Linked DNA regions of Homo sapiens. The protein of the gene in region 4 purifies or fractionates together with the protein of the main gene of each other region. This does not show direct contact. Each region holds a gene or a part of one and is shown on either strand. Other genes may lie near its edges.

Region 1 (3,500 bases), on a different chromosome or scaffold from region 4:
TTATTAAAAAATAAAACAGAGCACTGTGTCTCCTATGTTGCATTGCAGCCAGAGAAACTTAAAATATTAACTTAACTAAAAATTTAGAATTTTTGGCCAGGCACAGTGACTCAGCCTGTAATCCCAGCACTGTGGAAGGCTAAGGCAGGCAGATCACTTGAGGTCAGGAGTTCAAGACCAGCCTGGCCAACACTGTGAAACCCTGTCTCCACTAAAAATACAAAAAAATTAGCCGGGCATGGTGGTGCACACCTGTAGTCCCAGCTACTCAGTAGGCTGAGGCAGGAGAACAGCTTGAACCCAGAAGGCAGAGGTTGCAGTGAGCTGAGATCGTGTCTGGGTGACAGGGCAAGACTCCATCTCAAAAAAAAAGAAAAAAAAATTTAGAATTTTTTAAATAGTAGGAATAACATAATTACCTTATTAAAATAATCAATAAGGTACTTTTTTATCCTTAACGTAAAAAAACAAAAGGATGAAATTGGGAGATGTCACTTAATAAGATGTTTTCCACAGTCATTTAGCAGAACCTGCCTAAATATAAAAGCCAGGAAACCAACCTAAGTCATCTTATAACCCAGATAAATTTACTGAGACCATCATTAAAAATTTACCTCATCCTCTGCTGTTCACAGAGTAGAAAACTTTCTATATCCCAAACATCTGTGAACAGTCATGTATGTTATCATGTTAGGAAAAAGAAAGAATTAACCATCTCTTTACATCTGTTTCAACAAAGTAGAGACTCTCGCTAATTAGAAACTTATAAAGAACATAATACTAAAAGTGAATTACTATAGTTAAAAAAATATATTAAAGGAAAAACAGATTGGAGGTGAAAGAATGAGAAAAAGATTTTTATTTAACCTTAAGTATTGAATGTCTACATTGCCCAAATTCATTCAATCATTATTCAAATATTTTTGCCTAATTTTAGCTTTCACTACTAATTAATTGGGTAACAAAAACACATATAAAAAAGAATTAGTAACTCCAATCCCTAAACCCAGAACACTTTTTAATATACACTTCATTGATTATATTTATATAATTTTATTCTACATATAAAAGAAAAGATGAAAACTTACTTTCACCCTCCTAATAGCATAGGTATGACCAAGAAGTTCAAACACTGGTTGTCGTACATTCCTTAAGTCCCAGCCTCTCAAACTACAGTCAACCGCCCCGGTCACCAGCAAATTCTAAAAACAATTCAGAGAAACATAAACTGTGACATCTTTGCAATTAAACAGTATGCAGGCTTTCCTACTAGAAACAACATCTGCTTTCTGATAACTATTTAATATGAACCAAGGAGTCATTTTTGAGAAGTTGTATAACAAGTATAGACAGGAATCAACATAGACATTAATAGCAAAAAACTAATATGACTTGTGAGAAAAAGAACTCAATATGCTTTATGTACACGATGGAACACTACAGACAGCTGGAAAAGGCATAGTTCCAAACAGCATTGTGGATTTTCTAATTCAGCTTTAGAAGCGGCAGTAAATACATAGGGGATTAAAAATTTTATCTGACAAATGAGCCCAGCTTTCTCTTCAAAAGGTTTTCCCTGGAATTCCAGCACCTTGGGAGGCAAAGGTGGGAGGATCACTTGAGGCCAGGAACTTGAGACCAGCATGGACAATAAAGCAAGACCCTGTCTACCCAAAAAATTAGCCAGGCGTGGTAACACACACCTGTAATTTTAGCTACTTGAGAGGCTGAGTGAGGCAGGAGGATTGTGTGAGCCCAAGAGTCAGAGGCTACAGTGTGGTATGATCACCCCACTGTACCTCAGCCTGGATGACACAGCGAGACCCTGTCTCTAAAAAAAAAATAAAAATTTAAAAAAGGTTTTCAAGGCTGGGTGCGGTGGTTCACTCCTATAATCCCAGCACTTTGGGAGGCCAAGGCCGGTGGATCACTTGAGCCCAGGAGTTTGAGACCAGCCTGGGCAACAGTGAGACCTCATCTCTAAAAAACAAACAAACAAAAAGGGTTTCAACATACTCTGAGGTTTTTCCAGGCATTAAAAGGCAAGAGGTCTGTTCATTTAGGCACATCTGAAAAAGCAAAGGCTATGAATTAAATTTTTCCATGTTCTCTAAATCTAAATTAATCATTGTTTCCAACTCTCTTGGACCAAAATTCTTAATACGATATCTAATCATATCCAAGAATGTAATCAAATAGTGGTGAGTCTCTTATCTATTCCGGCTTTACAAATTCTGCTATCTAGAGCCCCAAGTGAACCCAGAGGTCCTGGCTGAATAGGACAAGTGCTGGGTCCACACTCAGTCCACCCCACATAACTCAGAACAGCAATGGATTTAAGTTGGCGCAAAAGTAGTTGCAGTTTTTGCCATTGAAAGTAATGGCAAAAACTGCAACTACTCTTGCACCAACCTAACATTGTCTGACTATGTTGGGCTTTAGTTTAAGCTAATTTGAAGAAAAGTTTCAGTTATTAGAAAATAATTTTTGTAAATCACTCTCAAATGTCTATCAGCATCTTTCTTTAGAGTTCCCAAACATCTAACATACAGGCCATAATTAATTTTCCAATATGAAACATTCATTTATGAGTTTGAAACTATAGTCATCAGCATTGAAATGTTTAGATTGAGTAATATCATTGTATATATACTATATTTTAACTTATTTTACTTATTTTTATTTAAAGAACTCTGCCAATACAATGTTCTTTTAACTTTAATTAATTTAAAACTGGGAAAAAAACAAAGCATACATTTTACCTATTTGTCACGGTCAACAGACCACTTCAGGGACATAAATACAGTCATGCATCACTTAATGATGGGGATATGCTCTCAGAAATGTGGCATTAGGCAATTTCATCTTTGCGTGAACATCACAGAGTGTACTTACACAAACCTAGGTGGTACAGCCTAGTACACACCCAGGCTAGATGAAACAGCCTATTGCTCCTAGGCTACATGCCTGTCCAGCATGTTACTGTACTGAATACTGTAGGCTACTGTAACACAATTGTAAGGCTTTCTGTATCTAAACATAGAAAAGGTATAGTAAAAATATAGTATGGAAGATAAAAAATGGTAGTAGGGTCCTTACCATGAATGGAGCTTACAAAACTGGAAATTACTCTGGGTGAGTCAGTGAGTGAATGAGTAGTGAGTGAATGGAAAGGCCTAGAACATTACTGTACACTAAATTTATTTTTTATTTCCTTTCTTCAATAATAAATTAACCTTAGCTCACTGTAATTTTTTGCTTCATAAACTTTCTAATTTTTTTTAAAGTTTTTTGTTGTTGTTGTTGTTGTTGTTTTGAGATGGAGTCTTGCTCTGTTGCCAGGCTGGAGTGCAGTGGCGTGATCTTGGCTCACTGCAGCCTCTGCCTCCCAGTTCAAGCGATTCCCCTGCCTCAGCCTCCCGAGTAGCTGGGACTACAGGCGCCTGCCACCATGCCTGGCTTTTTTTACTTTTTGACTCTTCATAATAACAAAACTTAAA
Region 2 (3,500 bases), on a different chromosome or scaffold from region 4:
AAGGCAGGATGGGGAGCTCTCATAGAACAAAAGCAAAACCCAAGGAACTTCAGGATAGCTACCACCTTTGCCAAGGATTGAGCCACCTCAATCATATATCACCTGATTTTGAAATCTTTGAGCTTTTCTGCATTCAGTTTGGCTGTTAAGAAATCTGGAAGTTTTCGGCCCAACTGGTGAAAACTGTACAACAAACATTCCACATAACTGAACTGTAGCTTGGGTTCTTCATTACCAGCATTCTCTCCATTTTCTGCCTCTTCTGGAGGGAGGGGCATGTATTCCTAAGAGAGAAAAATATACAGATTTTGCAATCTGTTCTACATATTCAAATTATAAACAGATATTCAGGGAATTACAGTGCATGTTTTTAAGGCATGGAGCATTAAAAACTACCAAAACCAGACATTTGGATTTCTTTTTTACTTACTGGATCAATGCTCTAGCCTGTCAACGCTCCATATTAACCTGTTACAGCTGCTGTTACAGCTGCTATTATTAATAATGAAGATTAATGTAGCTATCATTTATTAGGCACTTACAGATAAAGGCACTGATGCTCTGAGAGTTAGGGTAACCTTCCCATGGTAACAAAGTTAATAAACTAAAGAGTCAGAATTCAATCTAGATTTGACATCAAATGCTGATGCTCTTAACAACTATACTATGCTTACTACAAAAATATTTTCTGAACGTAAGTCCATATTGTTTAAGTACTGACTCATTACAAGTGAAGTACTGCCAATGGCATTCAGTATCAGTGCTATAACAACCCAGTAAGTTACATCTGGACGAGTGCCAGATGTTGATGACTCAATTCATGCTAAGGACCTAATGCTTATCACTGTGTTAGTTATACAAATACATCAAATAAGAAAATCACTCAGTGATGCTGATAATGATTTTATCAGATGGCCTATTTTCTCCCTAATTATAAGAAACACCAAGATTAAAACAAAGTAGACAACAACATGTGGCCTAGGAAGCTAACAATACTTATTAGGATTATTGTTTAATTGAAATTTCAAAAACTGGTTCTTGTAATCTAGAAATTAATAATAAATTAGACTTTGAGCTATATACTGACTATCCCATAAGGAAAGGAAAAAGTTCTTACCAATAACTTATCAAATAGTTTCCTTAAATTTGTTTCTAGTTTTTCCATGTCACCACAAAATGAACTCATCTCCGCCAACAATTTCAATACCTAAAACACACAATTCACTATTACTGTTTTTTTGAATAAGCAAGGGTTATGAAATGAGAGTAATTCTAGATAACGATTTAAGACTTTATTTTCAATTATGTTTTCACAGAATCATAACATTTGAAATGGAAGAAAACCTTAGAGATAGATGCAGCCCAACATTTTACTGTGAAGGAAAGTAAAGGTCAGAGATTATGTGACTCGACAAAGTCACAGGGTGTAAGTGGCAGGGCAGACCCTAAAACCCAGATCCCATGATTTCCAATATATCTGTGAGAAGAAGTATGGAAAATAATACATACGACACTTTCTGCTACAGGTTAATGATTGTGCTAATTGCAAGGCAAAAATGATAAATATATTAACTATAAAGACACACTTAGTAAGAACTCTCAACAGCTAAGAACTAATTACTCATGGTTAAGGTGGGCCTCATTTCCTGTTAAATTTAGTCTCTGGATACTTACTCAAAATATTGGTAATGACCACTATTCTCAAGGTTCATTCCTGCATTTCCCAATCCCAGTCTGATGGGCCTAGCCCAGCACATTTGAAGCAAACTACCTTGTCAGTGCACAGTGAGATTCTTCTCTATCCCAAAGACCCATGAGGGAAATGGCACACGCATTTCCATATTTCAGTCCAATTCAATAATCACTATTGGGTGCTTGATTCAAAATCAAGTTTTGTGCCAGATTCTGGGGATACAGAGGTGAATCAGATTAAATGTAGGGAGAGATTATAAACAAATGTAAAGTATTACAGATGCTGTGAAAAAATGTTTACATACATTACAGTTGAGATACAAAGTTGGGAGGGGTAGTGAATTCTATTGAAGAAGGAATAAAGGATATTTTGTGTTAATCCAGTTTAAAATTGGCTCTGTCAGTTATGGATAGAAATGAATGAATTAAACACCTTATTTAAAAATATTAAGGCTACAAAAGTAGAGACTGACTATAATAAAACTACAGGTAAGGCTTTCCCATTGCAGCAAACTTTAATTGAATCCATGAAGCAGTCCTAATGCAATTAATTCTGGTCTAGGGAGATTACTGGCTGGCCATTACCAGACATTTAAACTGCTCCCTTAGAAATCGGATCTAAGTTAGTGGTTTACATTTTTGTTAAAATATAAGAATGCCTTATCAGTGCTAAAGCTGAAATTTTTGCTTACCTCCAACTGTATATCAAGACCTTCCACTGGGGTAGTCAAGGTACCGAGGTTAGGGAGAACCTGCTCACAGAAATATGTCACAAACCTTGTGGAATGGACATTTTTCTGTAAGAAATCCAAAGAAAATGCATTGTCGAAAAACAAATATTCGCTCAAATATTATAGCAGAATTTCATTCAATAAATGCTGAGCGCTACAGCATCAAGTATTCTGACTACAAATACGATATAGTGCACACCCCAGCATGCCCCAGATATAACCTCAATAGGTGATCTACGAAGGGGCTTCAATAAGTTCATGGAAAAATGGAATAAAAAGATAAAGAATAAAAAATATAAACTTTATTTATCAACATAAGCTCCATCAAGGTCAAGACACTTTTGCAGGTAATGATACCAGTCATCTCTGAACAACTGAGGGTCCTGGGAACTTAACCATGTCAATGCAGTCTTTTTTATACTATTAACCAAAGAAATGTGGGTGCCCTTTAAAGATGTTTTTTAAGATTAGGCAACAAAAAGAAATCAGAAGGGCCCAAATAAGGACTTTAAGGTGGATGCCTAATGATTCCTCATCAAAACTCTTAAAAAATTGTCCCTGTTTGATGAGAGGAATGAGCAGGAGCACTGTGGCGGTGGAGAACTCTGGTGATGCTTTCCTAGGCGTTTTCCTGCTCAATCTTTGGCCAACTTTCTCAAAACAAGCTCATAATAAGCAGACATTATTCTTTAGCCCTCCAGAATGTCAACCAGCAAAATGTCTTGAGCATCCCAAAAAACTGCCATAGCCCTTCCTCTTAACTGGTCTCTTTTTGCTTGGACTGGGCCCTTTTCACTTCCTGGCAGCCATTGCTTTGACTGTGTTTTGTCTTCAGAATTGCACTGCTAAAGCCATGTTTCACCTCCTGTTCCCATTCTTCAAAGACATGCTTCAGGATCTTGATCCCACTTGTTTACAATTTCCACTGAAAGCTCTGTTCTTGTCTGCAGCTAATCTGAGTGCAATGGTTTTGACACTCATCAGTAGGAAGTTTGTTAAACTTCAATTTTTCAGTCGGAATTGAATAAGCTGAACCAACTGAGATATCGATGATGTTGGCTATTGTTTCTGCTATTA
Region 3 (3,500 bases), on a different chromosome or scaffold from region 4:
CTTCGGTCCCCACAGCACCCACTCCCTTCCCAGCCCCAGAGCGCCCGAATGTGGTGCTCTGGACCGTGCCTCTGGGCCACACGGGCACTGCCACCACCGCGGCCGCCGCCTCTCACCCAACGCACTACGACGCCCTCATCCTCGTCACCCCTGGGGCCCCCACTGAGAAGGACTGGGCCCAGGTCCAGGCCTTGCTGCTACCAGATGCGCCTCTTGTCTGCGTGCGCACAGACGGCGAGGGCGAGGATCCGGAGTGTCTGGGAGAAGGCAAGATGGAGAATCCCAAGGGCGAGAGCTTAAAGAACGCAGGTGGAGGGGGATTGGAGAATGCACTCAGTAAGGGAAGGGAGAAATGTAGCGCTGGATCGCAGAAAGCAGGCAGCGGGGAAGGTCCTGGGAAAGCTGGCAGCGAGGGTTTGCAGCAGGTTGTCGGCATGAAGAAATCAGGTGGTGGCGACTCAGAGCGGGCCGCTGCGTTAAGCCCGGAGGACGAGACGTGGGAGGTGCTGGAGGAGGCGCCGCCGCCAGTGTTCCCCCTACGGCCTGGCGGACTCCCAGGGCTATGCGAATGGCTGCGGCGAGCGCTCCCCCCAGCCCAGGCAGGGGCACTGCTGCTGGCGTTGCCACCAGCATCTCCCAGCGCTGCCCGAACCAAGGCTGCGGCGTTGCGAGCCGGGGCGTGGAGGCCAGCTCTGCTGGCTAGTCTGGCGGCGGCGGCGGCACCACTCCCAGGGCTGGGCTGGGCATGCGACGTGGCACTTCTGCGGGGTCAGCTGGCGGAGTGGCGACGGGGCCTGGGGCTGGAACCCACGGCACTGGCTCGACGTGAGCGTGCCCTGGGCCTGGCTTCTGGAGAGCTGGCAGCGCGCGCTCATTTCCCAGGCCCGGTGACGCGCGCCGAGGTGGAAGCAAGACTGGGCGCCTGGGCGGGCGAGGGCACTGCTGGGGGCGCAGCACTGGGGGCTCTCTCCTTCCTGTGGCCTGCGGGTGGTGCAGCGGCGACAGGTGGCCTGGGCTACCGAGCGGCTCACGGCGTCCTGCTGCAGGCTCTCGATGAGATGCGGGCTGATGCTGAGGCTGTGCTGGCACCCCCTGAGCCTGCCCAGTGAGGAGTGGGAGGGGGCTTGGGAGTCCAGACTCTGACAGGGGATGCCTGGGCTTAATCCTGGGTGCTTGAAGGGGATGTGGACTCTTGACTTCCAGCTGGGATGTGTGACTTCTTATCACCTGGATTCAGAGAGTCTGGGGGACAGGAATCCTGATTTTTTTTTTTTTTTTTCTTTTTTTTGTGAGACGAAGTCTCTTGTTGCCCAGGCTGGAGTGCAATGGCGCGACCTCGGCTCACTGCAACCTCCGCCTCCCGGGTTCAAGCGATTCTCCTGCCTCAGCGTCCGGAGTAGCTGGGATTACAGGTGCCTGCCACCACACCTGGCTAATTTTTGTATTTTTAGTAGAGACGGGGTTTCACCATGTTGGCCAGGCTGGCCTCGAACTCCTGACCTCAGGCGATCGACCCGCTCCGGCCTCCCAAAGTGCTAGGATTACAGGCGTGAGCCACCGCCCCTGGCCAGGAATCCTGATACCTTTGGGAACCATGGTGAATGACATCTAGACCCTTCTGTCCTGAAGGGAGTTGGTGGCCCAGACTCTAGCAGGGACTATGTCTTTGTCTCCTAGGGAGTAGAAACTGGAGTTACTGGATGTTTAGTCCTCCAGGGAGGCTGGTAGAAGTCCTGTTTCCTAATTGGTGGGGAGGTGTCCATGACTGGGACCTGAACTCCAGTATAGGGGAGGGAGACCTGAGCGCCCCAGGGAGCTGGAACTCTTGGGCTTCAGAGCCTCAGAGGGAAACAGGGTCTACATTTCTCTGGGAGAAAAAGCCTGCACACAGGTCCCCAAGGAGCAGTGGGCTTTGAATCTTGATGGGGTGGCGGAGGCCCCTGGGGTCTGAGACTTCCGGGGTTCTAAGATGGCTGTGGACCTTGGTTCCTAAATATTGGGTAAGGGGAGGTCTGCATCTGGAGGAGGGATCGGGGGCTTGTGCGAGAAAGCTGGAGACTTCTTGATCTCTCCTGGGGAGTGGATGGGTTTCTATAATTGCCCTCCAAAAGCATGTAGGGAGGGTGGTCCCACAAAAATGAGGTGAGGTGGGTAAGAGGTCTGGGCATGGTGGGCTCTGGGAGTAGCCAGGGACCAGGAATGAGGTCTTTTGGGTGTGGAAGGGCAGTAAAGCATACCTCAGAGACAGCTCCTCCAAACCTTGTATTGGGATCCCGGCAACTGCCTCTGTGAGTGTGACTGGGAAGGGATATGACTGCCTTCATCTTCTAGGTGCTGAGCAATTCAGGTGATCTCTGGGGAGTCTGTTTCTCTGTCTCTTTTCTTTAGGAGTTTCTATCTTTTTTTGGCCTTTTTCTCCTGGTATTTAACCATAACCCTTTATGGCCTTGGTGTTTTGTGCACCTTCCTTTTCAGAAGAGCAGCTGTACTGCTGCACTGGTCCAAACACTTCTGTATGGACACCTCGGGTATCCCCAAGAGGCTCTGCTTTCTGATGTACATAGAGGGTGCTGCATTGAGCCAGGGGCCCACCAAATGGGTGGTCAGGCACTTGAGACCATGGGAATATGCCAGGAGTGAATGAAGCAAAGGCAGAAACCACAGTGCCTGGAATGTTCTAGGCTGCTAGCCACATGTGGGGGAAAAGTTGCAGGTTACAGAATTCTTCAGTGTCAAAAACAGAAAAGGAGGATCTGAGAATCCAAGCGATAGAATCCCTTTTGTCGTAGACAGAAAGAGCAAAGTCCAGAGAGGGCAGGCTTGAGGCCCAACAGCACACAGTAAGGCCCTGTGGGTCTGGCCCTTGCCTATTCTCATTCACTGCCCCTTCCCACTCCTGTCCAGCCTGATAGACTTTCCTTCTTTTTTTTTTTGAAATGGAGTCTCACCTTGTCACCCAGTCTGGAGTACAGGGATGTGATGACTGTAGCTGAGATGACAGGCATGTGCCACCACACCTGGCTAATTTTTGTAGTTTAGTAGAGAAGGGATTTCACCCTGTTGGTCAGGCTGGTCTCGAACTCCTGACCTCAGGTGATCCACCCGACTCAGACTCCCAAAGTGCTGGGATTACAGGTGTGAGCCATCATGGCCGCCTGACTCTTTCTGATGCCTGAGTGGCTACCTTGAGTCCTGCCTGGGGACCCATGCACCTGCTGTTCTCTTTCCTTCAAGGCTCTACTCACAACTTCCTGTTCTACTCTCAAACCTTCCTGTGACGGGCTCAGTCAGATCTCAGCTCACGTATCCCCTCAGAGAGGACTTCCCCTCCCTGACCACCCTATCTGAAGTAGCTCACATTCCCCCACTATTCATTTCGGCCAGTTGAGTTTCCTTGTAGCAATTATTACTGTCAAAAATGATCTTATTTATTTACCTGTTTATTGGCTTTTGACCCGTTGCCTGTCCTGTTCTCTGTTGTTTCCCCAGCATCTAGAACA
Region 4 (3,500 bases):
GCTAAGGGCTTTACATACATTAGTGGCTAATTCTCACAACAATCCTCCAAGGGAGGTTTCACTATTCTCATTTTACACATAAAGGAACAGGAGTTAAAAGGAGTTAAGTACTTGCCCAAAGTCAGCTGGTTCATCAGGAACCGGGACTCAAGGTCTATGCAATTCCCAAGTCCATGCTCTATTACACCATATTAGCTGGGGGACATAATAGAGCCTTAAAGTGTTCTAAGACCAACAGAAGCAAAACAAGTGAGCTCCAGTTTCCAGCTGGGATCTACAACCTCAGGCAACTGAAGCTACCTAACCTCTATTTCCTCATACATTACAAAAAGAAAAAGAAGTTATCTTCCAACTCTAAGTTTAATGATTCCATCACTTTTTTCCTTTCTTTACTTTCTCTTTTTCCTCCTTCCTCTGCTACCTCCTAATATGGTCCAAAATGTGTTGGATACATCTATATTTTTTAAAGAAAAAGGATCTAAAATTGCATGCAATTATAGCACTGATCTTCCAAACAGAGATTAGACGGGCATGGTTTCTTATGTACTTCAAGAGATCAATTTTTCAGTCAGCTAAAAAAAAAAAAAACACATGGTTCTCCTTAGTAGTCGTTAGAGCAGTACTGGCTTACTGGGATAGAAATACAGTAATACACCACTTTTCAGAATTCAGGTTTCTGGCAACCCATCAGACAATTAACCAGTTCTGGGGAGAAGGGACAGCCAAGAAATATTTCCCAAAAAGACTTTCCTAAATGCACACTCAATTTATAAAGGACAATAATATATTACAAGCTTTTCTCATTTTGCAATCTTATGATCAAAATTGAAAGCTAATTTCTAAGATAATGAAGGACTATATTAGAGAAATAGAGAACATTTTCCATAATAACCTATCTCCTTCTCCACCACCACCACTCTGACAAAAATGGAAAACGAAAAAAACAAACAACAAAAAAAAAGTTGTAATTCTCTAACTTACTACCTTAAAAAAAAATGGTAATGGCCAGGCGCAGTGGCTCATGCCTGTAATCCCAGCACTTTGGGAGGCCAAGGCGGGCAGATCACCTGAGGTCGGGAGTTCAAGACCAGCCTGGCCAACATGGAGAAACCCCATCTCTACTAAAAATACAAAATTAGCTGGGCGTGGTGTCGGGCGCCTGTAATCCCAGCTACTCCGGAGGCTGAGGCAGGAGAATCGCTTGAACCCGGGAGACGGAGGTTGCAGTGAGCCGAGATCACGCCATTGCACTCCAGGCTGGGTGACCAAGGGCGAGACTCCGTCTCAAAAAAAAAAAAAAAAAATGGTAAATATATAGAAACAGTAACCAACCACTTAGGAAGCCAAAAAATAAAATGGTTTTTAACTTCCAGATACTAACCCCCAGTCATGATCTGTTACTAATTCCTTACCCTCTTCTTCTCACCCAACCTGGGGTTGGGGTGGAGATCTAAAATCCTTTACAGATGTTCCATCTAATTTCCAGACAAAATTATTACCTGTTTCCACACCTGTGTCTCCTGAGTGTGTCACCTCGTTAGGTTCAATTATTCTTAAATTTCTCAGTTGAAAATCCTGGTGATTCACCCTTAAGGAGAGAAAGAACAGGAAGTTGCAGACTTTGACCACAATAAACGTGGCAAGGCTCAGTTAGAGGAGGCATCGCTTAACTTAGCAGTTCTCTAACATGAGTCAGAAGAACTTTCACCCCCATTATCAGTGGCAGAATAAATAAAAGTTTGATGTAAAACTTGCAGGTGTAAAACATCCCCATGGCAGGTTAACCTTCTCAGTTGCAGCTTCTAGTTCATAAATTCTCACACCTCCTATTTAACTAGACTAAGAAGACTTATTTTCAATGTTTTTTCCTTACACAAGTTCTATTTGGTTCTTTTTCACATCTGCCCGTTCTTTCTTTATGGTGTCCTATTCTTGCACTCTGGTTTCTATGCCTTCTCTTTGTGCCTTCATTACTGTAGGCCCTTATTTTATAATTTCTCCCATACTTTCAAATAGATCTTGGGAGACTAACCCTCATGTTTGCTAGGTCTGCTGCCTCTCCCTCTTGGTGGTTCATTCCTTCTGCGTTTTGTGATCTTTTATTAAGAGCTTATCTTCAATAGAGGCTATTTATCTATGAGAATGTGATGGGTCCTGGTTTGTACAAGCAGTTCTGTTATTGTTTGCTTCTAAGACTTTCACATTAATTTATTAGCTAGAAGATTTACACACAAACTTCTTGTTCCCATATGGGGATAGTCTAATGCCCTGGACACCAGGCATGAAGGTCTATATCTGCATCTGGTAACTTTCCCAGGCTCAGGTTACTAGCATACCACTCAGGCGTTAGGTTCCCTCTACATTTTTGGCACTTGAGGATTTCTCTTTCTTTCAAGTTCATTCAGTCAACAAATATTTATTGAAAAATCTTCCATAATCCAGGCCCTATTCTGGACACAACAGTGAACAAAACAGACAAGATCTCTGACTTTAACAAATTAAGATGGGGCAAGGCAGGGGGATGGGCAGAAGACAGGGAAGAGAAGGCAACAGACACAAAACAAGTACACAATACGTCAAGTAATAAGAACGTGTTTTGTGAAAAAAAGTAAAGCACAGCAAGGGGAAGAAAGCATCAAGGAGGTAAGGGGAAGGATTATTTCATATGGGGTAGCCAGGGACAGCCTCTATTATAACAGACAACATTTTAACACAGACCTAAAAAGAGTGAGGAAGCAAGCCATGTGAACGGCTAGGGGAACAATGTTCCAGGACAACAGCAAGTGCAAAGGCCATGAGGCAGGAGTATGTCTAGTTTACCTGAGGAAAAGCAAGAAGGTCAGCGCAGTGTGATTGTATCAGGGGATGGGGAGGTAAGTGGTTCAGAGACAACATCATTGAGGCACCAGGGGGCCTACTGTGGGGCCATAGAAAAGGTTTTGAATTTTACTCAGCTATGAACTCAATTAAGTTATAATTTAACCGCATTTTTACATGTTGGTAAAGACAGAGAGGGACACATTAGCTCAGTCTACCACACGGTAAGAACCAGATAACCAGGCAGCTTTACCAATGACTCTAGGCCTGCTTTCATATGGCTGTGACTTTAGTTTTACTGGACAGAATGGGATGTTCTTAACGAGAGTAAACATATTATTCTTTCATAAAAAAGTAAGACACCCCAATATGTCTTCTAAAATATAAATACAAATATCCTCAACAAAATACCAGCAAACGGAATCTAGAACAATATAAAAAGGATCATCATCGCCAAGTGGGTCTTATCCCAGGAATACAAGGTTGGCTCAATATATGAAAAATCAATTATTATAACAGGCCATATCAATAGAATAAAGAACAAAATCTACATGGTCTTCTCAACAAACGCAGAAAAAGCACGACAAAATCCAATGCCCCTTCAAGTTAAAAGTACTCAGCAAACTAGAAGAAAAATTCCTCAACCTGACAAAAGTTATTACAAAACCTACAGCTAACATCAT

The links. The genes of interacting proteins can lie anywhere in the genome.
Region 1: the proteins of XPNPEP1 (region 4) and PEX7 purify together in Homo sapiens (co-immunoprecipitation; one large-scale study listed by IntAct). This does not show direct contact.
Region 2: the proteins of XPNPEP1 (region 4) and API5 fractionate together in Homo sapiens (co-fractionation; one large-scale study listed by BioGRID). This does not show direct contact.
Region 3: the proteins of XPNPEP1 (region 4) and IRGQ fractionate together in Homo sapiens (co-fractionation; one large-scale study listed by BioGRID). This does not show direct contact.

Annotation. Positions count from the first base shown.
Region 1 is NC_000006.12:136,867,592-136,871,091, reverse strand, and holds part of PEX7 (peroxisomal biogenesis factor 7), read right to left. Parts: intron 1,203-3,500; coding exon 1,089-1,202; intron 1-1,088. UniProt on the Homo sapiens protein: Receptor required for the peroxisomal import of proteins containing a C-terminal PTS2-type peroxisomal targeting signal. Specifically binds to cargo proteins containing a PTS2 peroxisomal targeting signal in the cytosol.
Region 2 is NC_000011.10:43,325,496-43,328,995, reverse strand, and holds part of API5 (apoptosis inhibitor 5), read right to left. Parts: intron 2,490-3,500; coding exon 2,385-2,489; intron 1,208-2,384; coding exon 1,118-1,207; intron 285-1,117; coding exon 103-284; intron 1-102. UniProt on the Homo sapiens protein: Antiapoptotic factor that may have a role in protein assembly. Negatively regulates ACIN1. By binding to ACIN1, it suppresses ACIN1 cleavage from CASP3 and ACIN1-mediated DNA fragmentation. Also known to efficiently suppress E2F1-induced apoptosis.
Region 3 is NC_000019.10:43,589,635-43,593,134, reverse strand, and holds part of IRGQ (immunity-related GTPase family Q protein), read left to right. Parts: coding exon 1-1,109; 3' UTR 1,110-3,500. UniProt on the Homo sapiens protein: Autophagy receptor that specifically promotes clearance of misfolded MHC class I molecules by targeting them to the lysosome for degradation.
Region 4 is NC_000010.11:109,913,512-109,917,011, forward strand, and holds part of XPNPEP1 (xaa-Pro aminopeptidase 1), read right to left. Parts: intron 1,589-3,500; coding exon 1,500-1,588; intron 1-1,499. UniProt on the Homo sapiens protein: Metalloaminopeptidase that catalyzes the removal of a penultimate prolyl residue from the N-termini of peptides, such as Arg-Pro-Pro. Contributes to the degradation of bradykinin.